2 linked regions of the Homo sapiens genome follow. The protein of the gene in region 1 interacts with the protein of each later gene in a pairwise test. Each region holds a gene or a part of one and is shown in the gene's direction. Other genes may lie near its edges.

Evidence for each region.
Region 2: the proteins of VMP1 (region 1) and SLC39A9 interact in binary tests that used the Homo sapiens proteins (3 or more experiments, as listed by UniProt).

Annotation. Positions count from the first base shown.
Region 1 is NC_000017.11:59,808,360-59,815,927, forward strand, and holds part of VMP1 (vacuole membrane protein 1), read left to right. Parts: intron 1-436; coding exon 437-517; intron 518-3,310; coding exon 3,311-3,427; intron 3,428-7,568. UniProt on the Homo sapiens protein: Phospholipid scramblase involved in lipid homeostasis and membrane dynamics processes. Has phospholipid scramblase activity toward cholesterol and phosphatidylserine, as well as phosphatidylethanolamine and phosphatidylcholine.
Region 2 is NC_000014.9:69,401,181-69,408,748, forward strand, and holds part of SLC39A9 (zinc transporter ZIP9), read left to right. Parts: intron 1-7,568. UniProt on the Homo sapiens protein: Transports zinc ions across cell and organelle membranes into the cytoplasm and regulates intracellular zinc homeostasis. Participates in the zinc ions efflux out of the secretory compartments.

The DNA of each region.
Region 1 (7,568 bases):
ATGCTTACTTATTGCCACATAACTGTTTTTTCCATCTTCTGGCTAGTGATCGGCAGAGATGTATTCATGAAGTCTGGCAAATTATAGAAGAAAGGAAAAGGTAGATGTTGTAGGCCAGTGTTTCCAAAATAATAAATTGGTTCATGGTTAGTTTACAGTATTTTGTTAATCCCTAGAATATCCAGAGAGAATACTAAATTTAAATTTACAGTGTTTTGGTTTATTCTTAAAATGTGGTAAGAGCTTAACTTTAAGGATGTAATAGTCTATCATTATTTTACTTGTGTTTCAGTGAACAACCTACTGTAATTTTTTTCATCATTCATCTTATTAATCAGTGTCATCAGATTGGGAGATCTTTAATAAACTCTAGAAAGAACCATCTTTCCTTCTTTTCCTACTTCTCATTAATGTTTCTAAATTTGCCTTTTTACAGGACTTTGCCTCCCGGGCCAAACTGGCAGTTCAAAAACTAGTACAGAAAGTTGGATTTTTTGGAATTTTGGCCTGTGCTTCAGTAAGTGAATTGTATTAAAACAGAACTTTTACTAAGTGGTAGTGTTATATTTTGATCCATATATACTCCTGAATTAACAAAAGTGCTATCACTTTTATTGGGTATGTAATTTTGTGAATCATTCACCTTTTTTTTTTTTTAAGACGGAGTCTCCCTCTTGTCACCCAGGCTGGAGTGCAGTGGCATGATCTCGGCTCACTGCAACCTCCATCTCCTGGGCTCAAGCAATTCTCCTGTCTCAGCCTCCCTAGTAGCTGGGACTACAGGCATGCACCCCCACGCCTGGCTAATTTTTATATTTTTAGTAGAGGCAGGATCTCATGTTGCCCAGGCTAGTCTCAAACTCCTGGGCCCAAGTGATCCACCTGCCTCGGCCTCCCAAAGTGCTGGGATTACAGGCATGAGCCACTACACCTGGCCCATTCAACTTTTTTTTTTTTTTTTTTTTTTTTTTTTGAGACAAGAGTTTCACTTTTGTGGCCCAGGCTGGAGTGCAATGGCACAATCTCGGCTCACTGCAACCTCCACCTCCCGGGTTCAAACGATTCTCCTGCCTCAGCCTCCCAAAGTAGCTGGGATTTCAGGCGACTGCCACCACACCCAGCTAATTTTTTTTTTTTTTTTTTTTTTTTTTTTTTTTTTTTTTTTGAGACGGAGTCTCGCTCTGTCGCCCAGGCGGTAGTGCAGTGGCGGGATCTCGGCTCACTGCAAGCTCCGCCTCCCGGGTTCACGCCATTCTCCTGCCTCAGCCTCCCAAGTAGCTGGGACTACAGGCGCCCGCCACTACGCCCGGCTAATTTTTTGTATTTTTAGTAGAGACGGGGTTTCACCGTTTTAGCCGGGATGGTCTCGATCTCCTGACCTCGTGATCCGCCCGCCTCGGCCTCCCAAAGTACTGGGATTACAGGTGTGAGCTACTGCACCCAGCCCAATTCAACTTATTAAATGAGCTGTTTTCTGTTGAATAGGTTCACATCTTGTTTATTGGCTTTTAAGTATTTCATCATGTAGTGATGACTTCAGACCTAAATGGCTTAAATCAGTAAGAATAAAAGAGACAAAATCCATTCTTCCAATGAAGAATATACTACATTTAACCAAATTAAACTACATTTAACCAAATAAGGATGACTTCATTCTTTCCTCAAATTTATAGATAAGAAGTCTTTTTCCAAAGTTTCAAGTATTAGTTACAAGGAAGAATTTATATAAAACCTGTTTAAAGCGATGTTAGCTCAGGGCTACTCTGATTTACGTATCTTAAATCCTTTTTTTGTGTTTGTTTTTCTTTTTTTGAGACAGAGTCTCCCTCTGTCACCCAGGCTGGAGTGCAGTGGCGAGATCTTGGCTCACGGCAACCTCCACCTCCCAGGTTCAAGCGATTCTCCTGCCTCAGGCTACCCAGTAGCTGGGATTACAATCATGCACCACTACACCCAGCTAATTTTTGTATTTTTAGTAGAGACAAGGTTTCACCATGTTGGCCAGGCTGGTCTCGAACTCCTGACCTCAAGTGATCTACCCACCTCGGCCTCCCAAAGTGCTGGGATTATAGGCATAAGACACTGCGCCCAGCCTACATATCTTAAATACTTTAAATTCATTTTCATTTCAACATGAGTTGGAACCTTATGATAAAGGAAAAAAAAGTTATAACTCATAGAATTATGAGAGTCACATGAGCAAATATAACAAATAGCAGGTGTGATGCTGTGTAAATGATATTATTATATGGTTGTAAGAGATGAAATAATCCTAAAGCATTTGAATTTGGATGAGAAAAACAAAAATGAGTCATTGAATCCAAGTGTTACTAACAAAGGAATACTTGAATTCTAATTTAGTCATGTCTTTTTTAAAGATCATATGTGACAAGTATTTTTTAAATAACTAGGCTTTTCTTTCAAAGTTCAAAAATGAAATTATATAAATTAATTGGCTTATTAATGGTTCAGCCAACAGCCACAAGGTCAGAGTACTTTCATAGGAGAAGAAGGGATGAAGTGCTCAAAAACAGCTTGTGGCTTCTTTGCATTTTTACATGAAATGTCTTTTAGCATTCTTAAAATGTGGGAATGTTTGGGAAAGGTATTTGTTGTGAATTACTTCTTTGTCTGGGACTGAGTATTCAAAACATCTGAATCTGTGTGATCTCATATTTCCACACTTGATCTTCTTTATAAATTGTGTCACATAGCCCTCAGACTTGGTCTCTCGTAAAATAAAATACAAATTATTAATATTTTATGTTGAGAATAACAGCACATCCACCCATAAATGTATTTGAGAATTTATTAAAATATTTGCTAATGATATGAGTGCTTTCCAGATAATATTCACATTTCAAGCTAAAGATTTTAGAACCCTAACTGCTGAAACAATCTTAAGGCTCTTTCTTCACTCATACCTCACCTTAGAAAACAGCCACCAAATATCCAGGAATCAACTGAACGGGATTAAATTCCTGCAGGTCCACTTACTTTATCCAGTTCTCATGTGATGGGCACACACACAAACACACACACAGTGCCTTAGCCATGAGTAATATAAGCAAAAGGACACCTTGGTTTGCTGTGAGCAGATTGAACACCTAAGGTGAATATGAGACCCAGCTTCTAGACACATTAGGATGTTTGCCTAACCTCCTTTTGAACAATCCAGTAGTGATCAAGGAACCCATATATTGCTTTGCAGTGTAAGCAGGCTGAAAGCAGAATACCACATATCAATGGGTGATAAAATTAAATTGTTCTTTGGATTATAATATGGAAGTCCTTCTTTTTCTCTCTATAGATTCCAAATCCTTTATTTGATCTGGCTGGAATAACGTGTGGACACTTTCTGGTACCTTTTTGGACCTTCTTTGGTGCAACCCTAATTGGAAAAGCAATAATAAAAATGCATATCCAGGTAATTATACCCCCTGATTCACTGCCTAATGATGATGAACCCATTACAAGACAATGAAACATGCTCATTCCTAAGTGAATTATTTAGTTATTCTTTCTGCTTTTTTGGTTGGTAGCTTACTTAGGTAATACCACATAGAATGTCATTTGGAATTAGTGATCTCCTTGTTTTCTTTCTTTTCTTCTTTCTTCCTCCCTCCTTCCCTTTCTTCCTTCTTTCCTTCCTTTCTCTCTTTCTTTCTTTATTTTTTGTCCTGTTTAACTATTTATCCAGGACTTTCACCAAACAAAAATAGTGTTTGTGTGCAGAAAGATGCACATCATTTTTATATACACAGCCCAAAAAATGTAGTTTTTTGTTTGTTTTGTTTTGTTTTACCAACCACAAGCTGAGAGAATATTGCCATTCACTAATTCTTACTTTCTTTCACATACTCTATATATATAGAGTGTGTAAAGCAGTTCCTCCCATGTTACCAATATCCTTTACCGAAAAACAGCCAGATGTTAGTGTGGGAGGAGAATGGGGAAGAAGAGGGTCTCTGAAGAGGCGAGGAGATGTGGGTTGTGGTCAGAGAAGTGAGAATCTGCTAGTCCTCAAAGCCACTCTTAACAAAATCTTTAGGATGGAGGGTGTGTGCATGTGTATGTGTGTGTGCACACATATATGAATAGAGAGGAGAGAAAAGGTTAACAATTTAAACGAAGGGAAAATGGATATGTGCTTCTAGAACTGTGATATGAATTACTTCCTTCTAAGGGCAGATCTCAATAGAATAAAATAAAAATTAACCTGGAAAGAATTTGTTTTATATCAGTATGGTTTGTAACAAAGAACGTTATTAACCAAAAGAAAGGAAAGAACAACCAAGCGTGGTGGCTCACGCCTGTAATCCCAGCACTTTGGGAGGCTGAAGTGGGCAGATCATGAGGTCAGGAGATCGAGACCATCCTGGCCAACATGGTGAAACCCTGTCTCTACTGAAAACGCAAAAATTAGCTGGGCGTGGTGGCGCACGCTTGTAATCCCAGCTACTTGGGAGGCTGACGCAGGAGAGTCTCTTGAACCTGGGAGGTGGAGGTTGCAGTGAGCCAAGATCACGCCACTGCACTCCAGCCTGGCAACAGAGCAAGACTCTGTCTCAAAAAAAGAAAGGAAAGAACAGTGAAGTTCTCTGCCCTTGTATGATTCCATGATAATTACAAGTGTGTCTATCCCCAAAGTTTCTATGTTAATACCTCTCTACTTCCAGTTCTTAGAAGGGAAGAATGAAACAGGAAAACTTCGGCTGCTTCTACTTATCCAGTTTATAATCTTAGATTTTGGCATTTGGGTCAAGTTTATTGCGTCTGTCCTCTATTTTCCTGCCATAATCACTCAGAATTTCATGATGTTTTTCCTACTTCAAAGAATATATTTCCTCCCATTTAAATTAAGTATTTTGTTCAATCAACGAACACAGGTTTTTTAATATTACAGTGCTAGTTACTATGGTTAAGATTTAATACTGGCCAGATGCGGTGGCTCACACCTGTAATCCCAGCACTTTGGGAGGCCGAGGCGGGTGGATCACCTGAGGTCGGAAGTTCCAGACCAGCCTGACCAACATGGAGAAACCCTGTCTCTACTAAAAATACAAAATTAGCCGAGCGTGGTGGCGCATGCCTGTAATCCCAGCTACTCAGGAGCCTGAGGCAGGAGAATCACTTGAACCTGAGAGGTGGAGGTTGCGGTGAGCCGAGATCGTGCCATTGCACTCCAGCCTGGGCAACAAGAGTTTGTCTCAAAAAAAAAAAAAAAGATTTAATACCATACAGGATTTTTTCAAATAATAAAATATGGTGAATAATAAATTATTTTCAATGTATCTGAAAATAGGTTTTTCTTTAATCTTTAGAGTTGTTTCTAGAAGAGAGCTGTCATTTAGCTTCTTGCAGTCCTTAATACCTAAGGAAAAATAACAGATTATTTTATTTCATAACAAGAACTTCTCTAGTAATCCATAAGTTTTATGTGTCCTGCTTTATACCTCTTGAATGCAGTGCCTTTCTATAAATTATAGTAAAACGTATTATGCCATAAGTACCCTATCTGTAGTGGTAAGATATGCAACTTATCAGACCTTTCATTTCAGAAAGATTTAAAACTAGTATATATTTAAACATACTCAGATTTTTTCAATTTATGATGATTGATTGATTGATTGATTTTTGAGATGGAGTCTCTCTCTGTCACCCAGGCTAGAGTGTGGTGGCGTGATTTCAGCTCACTGCAACCTCCGCCTCCCAGGTTCAAACGATTCTTTTGTTTCAGCCTCCAGAGTAAGTGGGACTACAGGCGCATGCCACCACACCCAGCTAATTCTGTATTTTTAGTAGAGATAGGGTTCACCATATTGGCCAGGCTGGTCTCGAACTCCTGACCTCATGATCTGCCCGCCTTGGCCTCCCAAAGTGCTGGGATTACAGGCATGATCCACTGCGCCTGGCCGATGAGTGATTTTTTTATGGAACTTCACACTTTAAAGCACTTATCTATATGATTTAATTCTTATAATCCTGGGATAGAGGAATTACTATACCCATTTTGTAATTCTCAGAGGTAGGGAGGTTAATAAGTAATAGTTGCTTAAGAGAGTAAGTAACAGCTGGAATTTGAACCCAAGTCTTTTGACTTCAAGTTCAGTGTTCTTTCCATTCTTTTGCATTGCCTTCTTAACTTTAATGTATTGATATGATTAAGGAAACTGAATTGTTTAATGCCTGCTATTGATCAGGACCTGTGCAAGGTAATTTGCAGTAGTTATCTCATGGCAGACAATCTTGAGAGGTTGTTATTAACCACATTTCATAGATGAGGGAACTGTGTTAGAGAAGGTAAAATACTTGCCTAAGGCCCTAGAATCCAACCAAGCTCTGTAAAGATAAAGCTCTTTCCCTGTATCTATGTGGAAGCAAAAAAGAAAAAGAAAGCTAAAATCCATTTATGTTTCTGAAAGGAAAGAATCTGAGTTCCTTCACTAAACTAAGACCGTGGGATATGTTTGCTGTGTTCCATCGTATCATAGTGACATGCTTTGTAAAGGCATGTCACTTGATGTACATCCAGATGTAGCTTAGGGTAACAAACATTTCTCATTCTGTGGGTAAACAATATTAGTAATATAAACATTTTAACCATTCTGAAATAATAGTGGGAAAGCCACACACACACCGATTTTTTTCTACCCTAATAGTAAACCTGTCTCCTTGTCTGCTTTTCTTTCTTCCCTTTTTCCTCAGCTTAAAATTAGACAACCTTCTTTAATAAATATTGCTATTTTTATTGATGTCTTCCTCTTAACCTTCCCCTAAAAGATTCAAATCAATCTACCTATAATGTTAGATCAGATTTCCCCTTCCACTGCACAGAGTCAAGTACTCTGTCTGTAGAAGTATCCTTAGATAGGAAAAGGCATGAGAAGAGTATCTTTTTAGAAAAAATTTTTTAAGAAGTAGTATCCTTAGAGACATTACCTTTGTCCCAAATAATTAAGAAAAGCAACATACTCATTCATGTTATTTCATGTACCATTTAACTTACTTATTGTACCCTTAAAATACATCACTGTTCTTTATCTCTCTACCTTCACACTCACCAGCACACACACAGTATTATAAACTCCCAGGAGGGCAGAGATTTTTGTCTGTTGGTTCACTGATGTATTATAATGCCTAGAATAGCATCCAGGAGATAGTAGGCACTCAATATTTAATAACTGAATCTGTCTTAAGATTCTTCTTTCTGGCCGGGTGCGGTGGCTCACGCCTGTAATCCCAGCACTTTGGGAGGCCGAGGCAGGTGGATCACAAGGTCAGGAGATCGAGACCATCCTGGCTAACACGGTGAAACCCCGTCTCTACTAAAAAAAATACAAAAAAATTAGCTGGGCATGGTGGCGGGCGCCTGTAGTCCCAGCTACTCAGGAGGCTGAGGCAGGAGAATGACGTGAACCAGGAGGCGGAGGTTGCAGTGAGCCCAGATTGAGCCACTGCATTCCAGCCTGGGCAACAGAGCGAGACTCCGTCTCAAAAAAAAAAAAAAAAAAAAAGATTCTTCTTTCCAATGAAGGACTTCTTTTACAGATGGTTCCATCTTTGTT
Region 2 (7,568 bases), on another chromosome or scaffold:
CCTGCAGACTGTTCCATTAGCAGAAGTTTATTATTGTTGTTCTTTACCAGTATTTCCTAGAGGCAAAGGTTGGGTCGGGCTGAGTAGCAGCTGTTAGGCACAGTCCTCCTTGCCCTTGAAGCCTGTTTCACTTATTTGGGTTACCTGCCTGCCCAGTACTTTGTGAACCTGCTATGTTTCCTTTGACATAACCATATTTTCTTATAACTATATTAGAATTGAATTGACATTAGTAGGGCTGACATGTGTGAGATTTGGGTTGGTTTGTGTATTTTTAAACATATTGAAGTAACATTTATGAATAATCATAATTAATTCTGATAAGCAACCAGTAAAACTTTTTATTTCTATAAAATGCCTTTAACTTTACCAATTCCAGTATTTTTTCAAACTACCTTGAATGATTATTGCAATATGCGGATATATACTATTTCCTTTTTCACTAGAAGGAAATGTTTACAGGAGTGGTGTTAATAACTGGGTCATTAATACAGATAATTAGTATGTCATGTCATTTGTGGCTTTCTTAAATTGACGGTCAGATGGTCTTTTCCAGCTGTAGGTCTTAAAATGCTAAAATCAGCATTCATAATATCTGTTTATTATTAGAGTAGATGCAATGCATTTTGAGCTATTAGAATAAAAAATGAAAGTTATATATAACTTAAAGACATCCTAGAATTCAACTAGGATTTCTATCTCCTAGGAACTAAACATATTTTCTAGGTAAATTATGCCATTATTATGGACCAATGTTGTAATGAAACTAGTGAGATGGTAAATTTGTAAAAATAAATTTCATTCACGGGGGACTGGAAAGCACCATTTCTTTCCTTAGAAAATAATTCCCCAAACTCCTACACTGGATAAATGACTTGCCTTTTTAAGGAAGTCTGGCTTTCTTAGAGGCTAGTGTTACTGTTTTACAGTTCACTTTCGTTTACATCAGGGGTGTCCAATCTTTTGGCTTCCCTGGGCCACATCAGAAGAAGAATTATCTCAAGCCACACATAAAATACACTAACACTAAGATAGGTGATGAGCTAAAAAAAAAAAATGCAAAAAAAAACTCATAATGTTTTAAGAAAGTTTATGAATTTGTGTAAGGCTTCATTCAAAGTGCTCCTGGGTTGCATGCGGCCCACGAGCCATGAGTTGGACAAGCTTGATTTACATGAAAAGATATGCTTTTTATTCATGTTTTTAATCTTGCTGCTGCTTTCTCATTCAATACTTTTTCTAAAAATATCTCAGAACAGGAATAAAAGTCAGATGATCAATTATGGCAAGATTAGTATTTAAAAACGAGTTAAAATTAGGTAGTCTGAAATTGCAGTAGTGGTGGGGTCTACCTGCCAGATGTGCCCACCAAGAGGTTTATGTGACATTGATTTCTCTGTCAGTTTCTCCTCACCCCAAAACTACCTTTCTTGATACTTTTGTGGCCTTCTTCCTTGCCCTTTGACCTGGCAACTGTACTTTCATGCCTTAAAAATTTATAAAACAAAGGAAAAAAAATCCGATTCTCAAATGCAATTATAAGTAACTATGATAATCAGGATGTAAATTTTTTCAGTATACAGGAAAGAGAAACACTTTTAACTTTTAAAGGAGGCCAGCCAGGTGCTAAGTGGCTCACGCCTGTAATCCCAGCACTTTGGGAGGCTGAGGTGGGCGGATTACCTGAGGTCAGGAGTTCGAGACCAGCCTGGCCAACATGGCGAAACCCCATCTCTACTAAAAATACAAAAATTAGCTGGGCGTGGTGGCATGTGCCTGTAATCCCAGCTACTCAGGAGGCTGAGACAGGAGAATTGCTTGAACCCAGGAGGCGGAGGTTGCAGTGAGCCGAGTCCCACCATTGCACTCCAGCCTGGGGAACAAGAGCAAAACTTTGTCTCAGAAAAAAATAAAAATAAATAAATAAAAATAAATAAATAAAGGAGGCCAAAGCATGCTTTACACAAAGGAAGCCCTGTTTGGTAAGGGAGTGAGACCCGTTGGTTTATAGTTAACACTGTCTTATGTTTTTTCGATTGAATTGCTAATGAGTAGTTTTCTTTGGCTCTAAATAACAATGTTACATAAGTAGGTTGAGAGCCTATATTACCTAGTATAAACTCAGTGCTGCTGCAGTTGATAAATGGAGCTATGATACAAAAACAGATGGCTCAAGTGGGATTTCAGATTGATTATCTGAGGGTTGTTACTCACCTGAGTATGTCTCCTCTTTGTCACAGAGCTGGTAACAGAGAGCAAGCTGTTTTTGGCTCAGAGCTCTACAGCAATATTCCTCAAACTGCCTGGTAAAGGATCAGTTTTTGTTTTTAATTTTTATTTCAATCCATACCAATACACTTATAAAAATGAAATAGTAGGAAAATGAAGTGAAAAAAAGACATAGAAAATACAAGCCCAAATGTATTGTTAAATTCAACAGATAAAAAATTACTACTATAATTGTAATAATCATATTGCTCTAAAAATTTCTGAAGGCTTTATCTCAGTTGCCATACTTTTCTTATTGCAGACCAGTTTGAGTTATAATGCCACATTTTTCATGTATTAAAACAGCAAAGCAGGCCAGGCGTGGTGGCTCACGCCTGTAATCCCAGCACTTTGGGAGGCCGAGGCAGGCGAATCATCTGAGGTCGGGAGTTCGAGACCACCCTGACCAACACGGAGAAACCCTGTGTCTACTGAAAATACAAAATTATTTGGGCGTGGTGGCACGTGCCTGTAATCCCAGCTACTTGGGGGGCTGAGGCAGGAGAATCGCTTGAACCTGGGAGGCGGAGGTTGCAGTGAACCAACATTGCGCCATTGCACTCCAGCCTGGGCAGCAAGAGCAAAACTCCCTCTCAAAAAAACAAAAAACAAACAAACAAAAACAGCAAAACTGGATGTAGTGGCACACACTGGTTAGTCCCAGCTACTCCAAATGCTGATGTGGGAGGATCACTTGAGCCCAGGAGTTCAGGGTTGCAGTGAGCTATGAGTGTGCCTGTGAATAGCCACTGGCAACATAAGGAGACCTACTCCCTAAAATAACCAACAGCATAAATCCATAAGTTGGCAGATGAAAGTAGTGCTATTCTTAGGATGATTTTAAAGATGAATATGATTAATAATGCACTGATTTCAAAAGGGACTGTCTGAGACAGTATCATTCAAAGTCAATGTTACTACTTGAACAAGCTATTAAAATCCAAATCTCTTCTGTTAAATGACCTTCTAGGATTGTTGTGAGGTTGAAATAATATAAGCACAGGCTTAACACTATGTCTAGAACATAATAAAAACTTTCAAAAATATTGAGGCAGATTCTCAATACTGATTAGAAAAACTTGTAAAGATTTTCATTTTTATAACTTTGTTCTAATTTATAATTGTTAAACCTTTTATTTGGAAACAGACTTAATAATGGGAAGCTCCTCCCCCTCCTCCCCTTCGCAGTCATGGAAACTTCTCGGCAATTTGTTTGGAATCCAAAGGTCTTGTTGTGGGGTTTGGTTTGCATTACTATTTACCATTCTATTTGGAGAGGCCAGGGCTTTTCCTCTACCCTCCCTGCTTTATACTATTTTTCTTAGTATTTAACTCTCTTTTCTTCATTATACTTACTCTCATTTTAAGCTTTGTTTTGTTCTTTCGTGTTTTAAAGTTTTGTGTCTGTATTAGTCCATTCTTACACTGCTAATAAAGACATTTCTGAGACTGGGTAATTTATAAACGAAAGAGGTTTGATTGACTCACAATTCAGCATAGCTGGGGAGGCCTAAGGAAACTTACAATCATGGCAGAAGAGGAGGCAAACACATCCTTCTTCATGGGGCGGCAGGATGGAGAAGTGCTGAGCAAAAGGGGGAAAGCCCCTTATAAAACCATCAGATCTCGTGAGAACTCACTGTCACAAGAACAGCAAGAACTCACTATCACAAGAACAGCATGACCTCCCACCAGGTCCCTCGCATGGGAACTACAACTCAAGATGAGATTTGGGTGGGGACACAACCAAACCATATCAGTGTCTGATTATAATAACTGACTCATTCATAATAAGTATCTTTAGGGGTTTGAGTTACCCGCAAATCAAAGGTTTATTGTGTCTGAAGAACAGATTTATTCAGTATGCTTCTGCCTCTACAATAGGTTCTCTTTGAAGTAGATTTAACAATGTTACATTTTTAAGGACTTTTATATTGTCTGGTACATTGCTCTTACCCTCTTATGGTAATACAAGAGATTTTATACCTGTTTGGAATTTCATTTGTAAATTCTAAGATTTGAGCCGGGCATGGTGGCTTATACCTGTAATCCCAGTGCTTTAGGAGGCTGAAGCTGGAAGTTTGCTTGAGGCCAGGAGTTTGAGACCAACCTGGGCAACAAGTGAGACCCTGTCTCAGATGAATGAACGTAAATTATAAAATTTTAAACTTTGCAATCTCAGTAAATTTATCCATATCTGGAAAGAAATCATCAGCTTGTCTTTTCTCAGATTGAACTACAGATTATTGTTTCATAAGGATCCTTGATAAAACTAAGTTTGGATCAAATAAAATCCGGTTGCAATATGATTCAATATTATTTTCCTGAAAAACTTTGTTTTCTCCAGGATACTATATTGATAAACATAATTAAGACTTATCTGCATAATAATATTAATAATGTTTATTGAGCTCTTTCTGTATACCAGGCAATGATATGCACTATCTTATTAATCCTCAGGACCAAGACTATGAGATACTGTTAAACCTCACTTTACAAATGAGCAAACTCAGGCTTGAAGAGGTCACAGACTCTGGTAGAGGTGTGATTTGGAACTAAGTCATTTTGATTCCTGTTGCCAAATCAGTCACTTGACTACTAAATGTTGCCTTTCCTAATGAATGCTGTGTAAAGAAGGAATGAAAATAGGATCTACCTAAATTGATGCCTTTAGCTCCCCAAATTAGGAACATCTTTCATACCTTCCACAGTATATCTCATGCTTTCTGCCTAGTCAGTGGAGTAGAACTTGAAACTCCAGAGGTAAACAGTCTCCAAATACCATTGAAACCTATAAGAAATAAGTTAATATGTCTTAGATGCCTTTTAAATTAACACCTGCCAATTTGGAATCTGAAGTAGTTCCTATTGTGAACTATCCAAGATGAATTTCACACTTGACATCCTCACAGGTTAGTCGTAAATTGTGCTGTTCAAGAAGTGACATCCTTTTCAAGAGAAGATGACATGAAATGGATTCAGAATGTTTCTGTATATGATAGTCTTAACCTCTCCTCTAATTAAAGAATTTAATGATGAGACTTTTGTTGAATGATAAGATCCCCTTCAGCTCAGTATGGAATTCCACACTGGGCTGAGCGCAGTGGCTCACGCCTGTAATCCCAGCTACTCGGGAGGCTGAGGCAGGAGAATTGCTTGAACCTTGGAGTCGGAGATTGCAGTGAGCTGAGATTGTACCATGGCACTCCAGCCTGGGCAACAGAGCGAGACTGTCTTAAAAAAAAAAAAAAAAAGTAGTAGTACTAAGTATGAGTACTGGTATTTCTTAAAACCTATAATGAAATTACAGAAATCTCAGTCTTCCTTGAATACTAATATTCAGTTTTTAACTTATTGAAATAAAATGGAAATAAATATTAGTTAGACTGGAAATTCTTTGTTTTTTTTTTTTTTTTTTTTGAGATGGAGTCTTGCTCTGTCGCCCAGGCTGGAGTGCAGTGGCGTGATCTCAGCTCACTGCAACCTCCCCTTCCCAGGTTCAAGCAATTCTCCTGCCTCAGCCCCCCCAGTAGATGGGATTACAGGTGCGTGCCACCATAACCAGCTAATTTTTTGTATTTTTAGTAGAGACAAGGTTTCACCATGTTAGCCAGGATGATCTGGATCTCCTGGCCTTGAGATCTGCCTGCCTCGGCCTCCCAAAGTTCTGGGATTACAGGCATGAGCCACCACACCCAGCCCTGGAAATTCTTACATGGAAATTCATTTTTAAATGAAAAGGTCTTGAGGGTAACTAATAGATAATTACATCAAACTATCTATTGCAAACCCTGTATTTATCTGACGTTAATTTCCTTCCTTCCTTTCTTTCCTTTCCTTCCTTCCCTTCCTTCCCTTCCTTCCTTCCTTCCTTCCTTCCTTTCTTCCTTCCTTTCTTCTTTCCTTCCTTCCAAATTTCACTCTTGTTGCCCAGGCTGGACTGCAATGGCATGATCTTGACTCACCATAACCTCCGCCTCCCAGGTTCAAGTGATTCTCCTGCCTCAGCCTCCCAAGTAGCTGGGATTACAGGCATGCACCACCACGCCCCACTAATTTTGTATTTTTAGTTAGAGACAGGGTTTCTCCATGTTGGTCTCAAACTCCTTACCTCAGGTGGTCTGCCCGCCTAGGCCTCCCAAAGTGCTGGGATTACAGGCGTGAGCCACTGCGCCCGGCCAATTTTCTTTCTTTTTTTTTTTATTTTGAGACAGAATTTTGCTGTTGTTGCCCAGGCTGGAGTGCAATGGCACGATCTCGGCTCACTGCAACCTCCTCCTCTCAGGTTCAAGAGATTTTCCTGCCTCAGCCTCCCAAGTAGCTGGGATTACAGGCGCCTGCCACCATGCCTGGCTAGTTTTGTAGTTTTAGTAGAGACAGGGTTTTTCCGTGTTGGTCAGGCTAGTCTTGAACTCCCGACCTCAGGTGAATCCGGCCTCCCAAAGTGCTGGGATTACAGGCATGAGCCACCGCACCCGGCCCTGCTATTATATTCTTTACGGTTCTCTCTTAGTCAATTCCTCATCATTCTAGTCCCCTTTTATGCTTTTATAGGTATTCCTTTTTTCTTTCTTTCTTATTTTGAGATGGAGTCTTGCTCTGTTGCCCAGGCAGGAGTGCAGTGGTATGATCTTGGCTCACCACAACCTCTCTCTTTGGGTTCAAGTGATTCTCCTGCCTCAGCCTCCCAAGTAGCTGAGATTACGGCTGCCTACCAACACGCCCGGCTAATTTTTGTATTTTTGGTAGAGACAGGGTTTTGCCATGTTGGCCAGGCTGTTCTCAAACTCCTGACCTCAGTTGATCAGCCCGCCTTGGCCTCCGGAAGTGCTGGGATTACAGGTATGAGCCACCATGCCCAGCCCCCTTTTGTAGGTATTCTTTATGTTAAACTTTCTCTCTTCAAATTACTTTATGCTTTCTCTTTGATGAAAGGACCCTGACTGATAGAGGTAGGTAATGGATCATAAAATCAAATAAGGCTGAACAGAGAATTAAGCCTGGAGTAAAATAAGACAGCCCCAGTGTCATGATATATGGCAGCTGACCTTCAGTGTCAGTGCCTGGGAGTCATTAGGGAGAAGTGAGAACTGTGGGCATCTAAAGGGCACATATCATTTGATGACACCAAATCTTCCTATTTTTCCAAAGCTAGAAATCTGGATTTTTATATGAAGTCTCCTGAATTTTATCCTTTGGCTACTTATTCAAATATTGTATCAGTGCGTGGGCCAAACAACCCATGTTTGTGAGTCTACAAGCCTCTAGACTGCCTGATTTCTAAGCCCTCTGAATGTAGA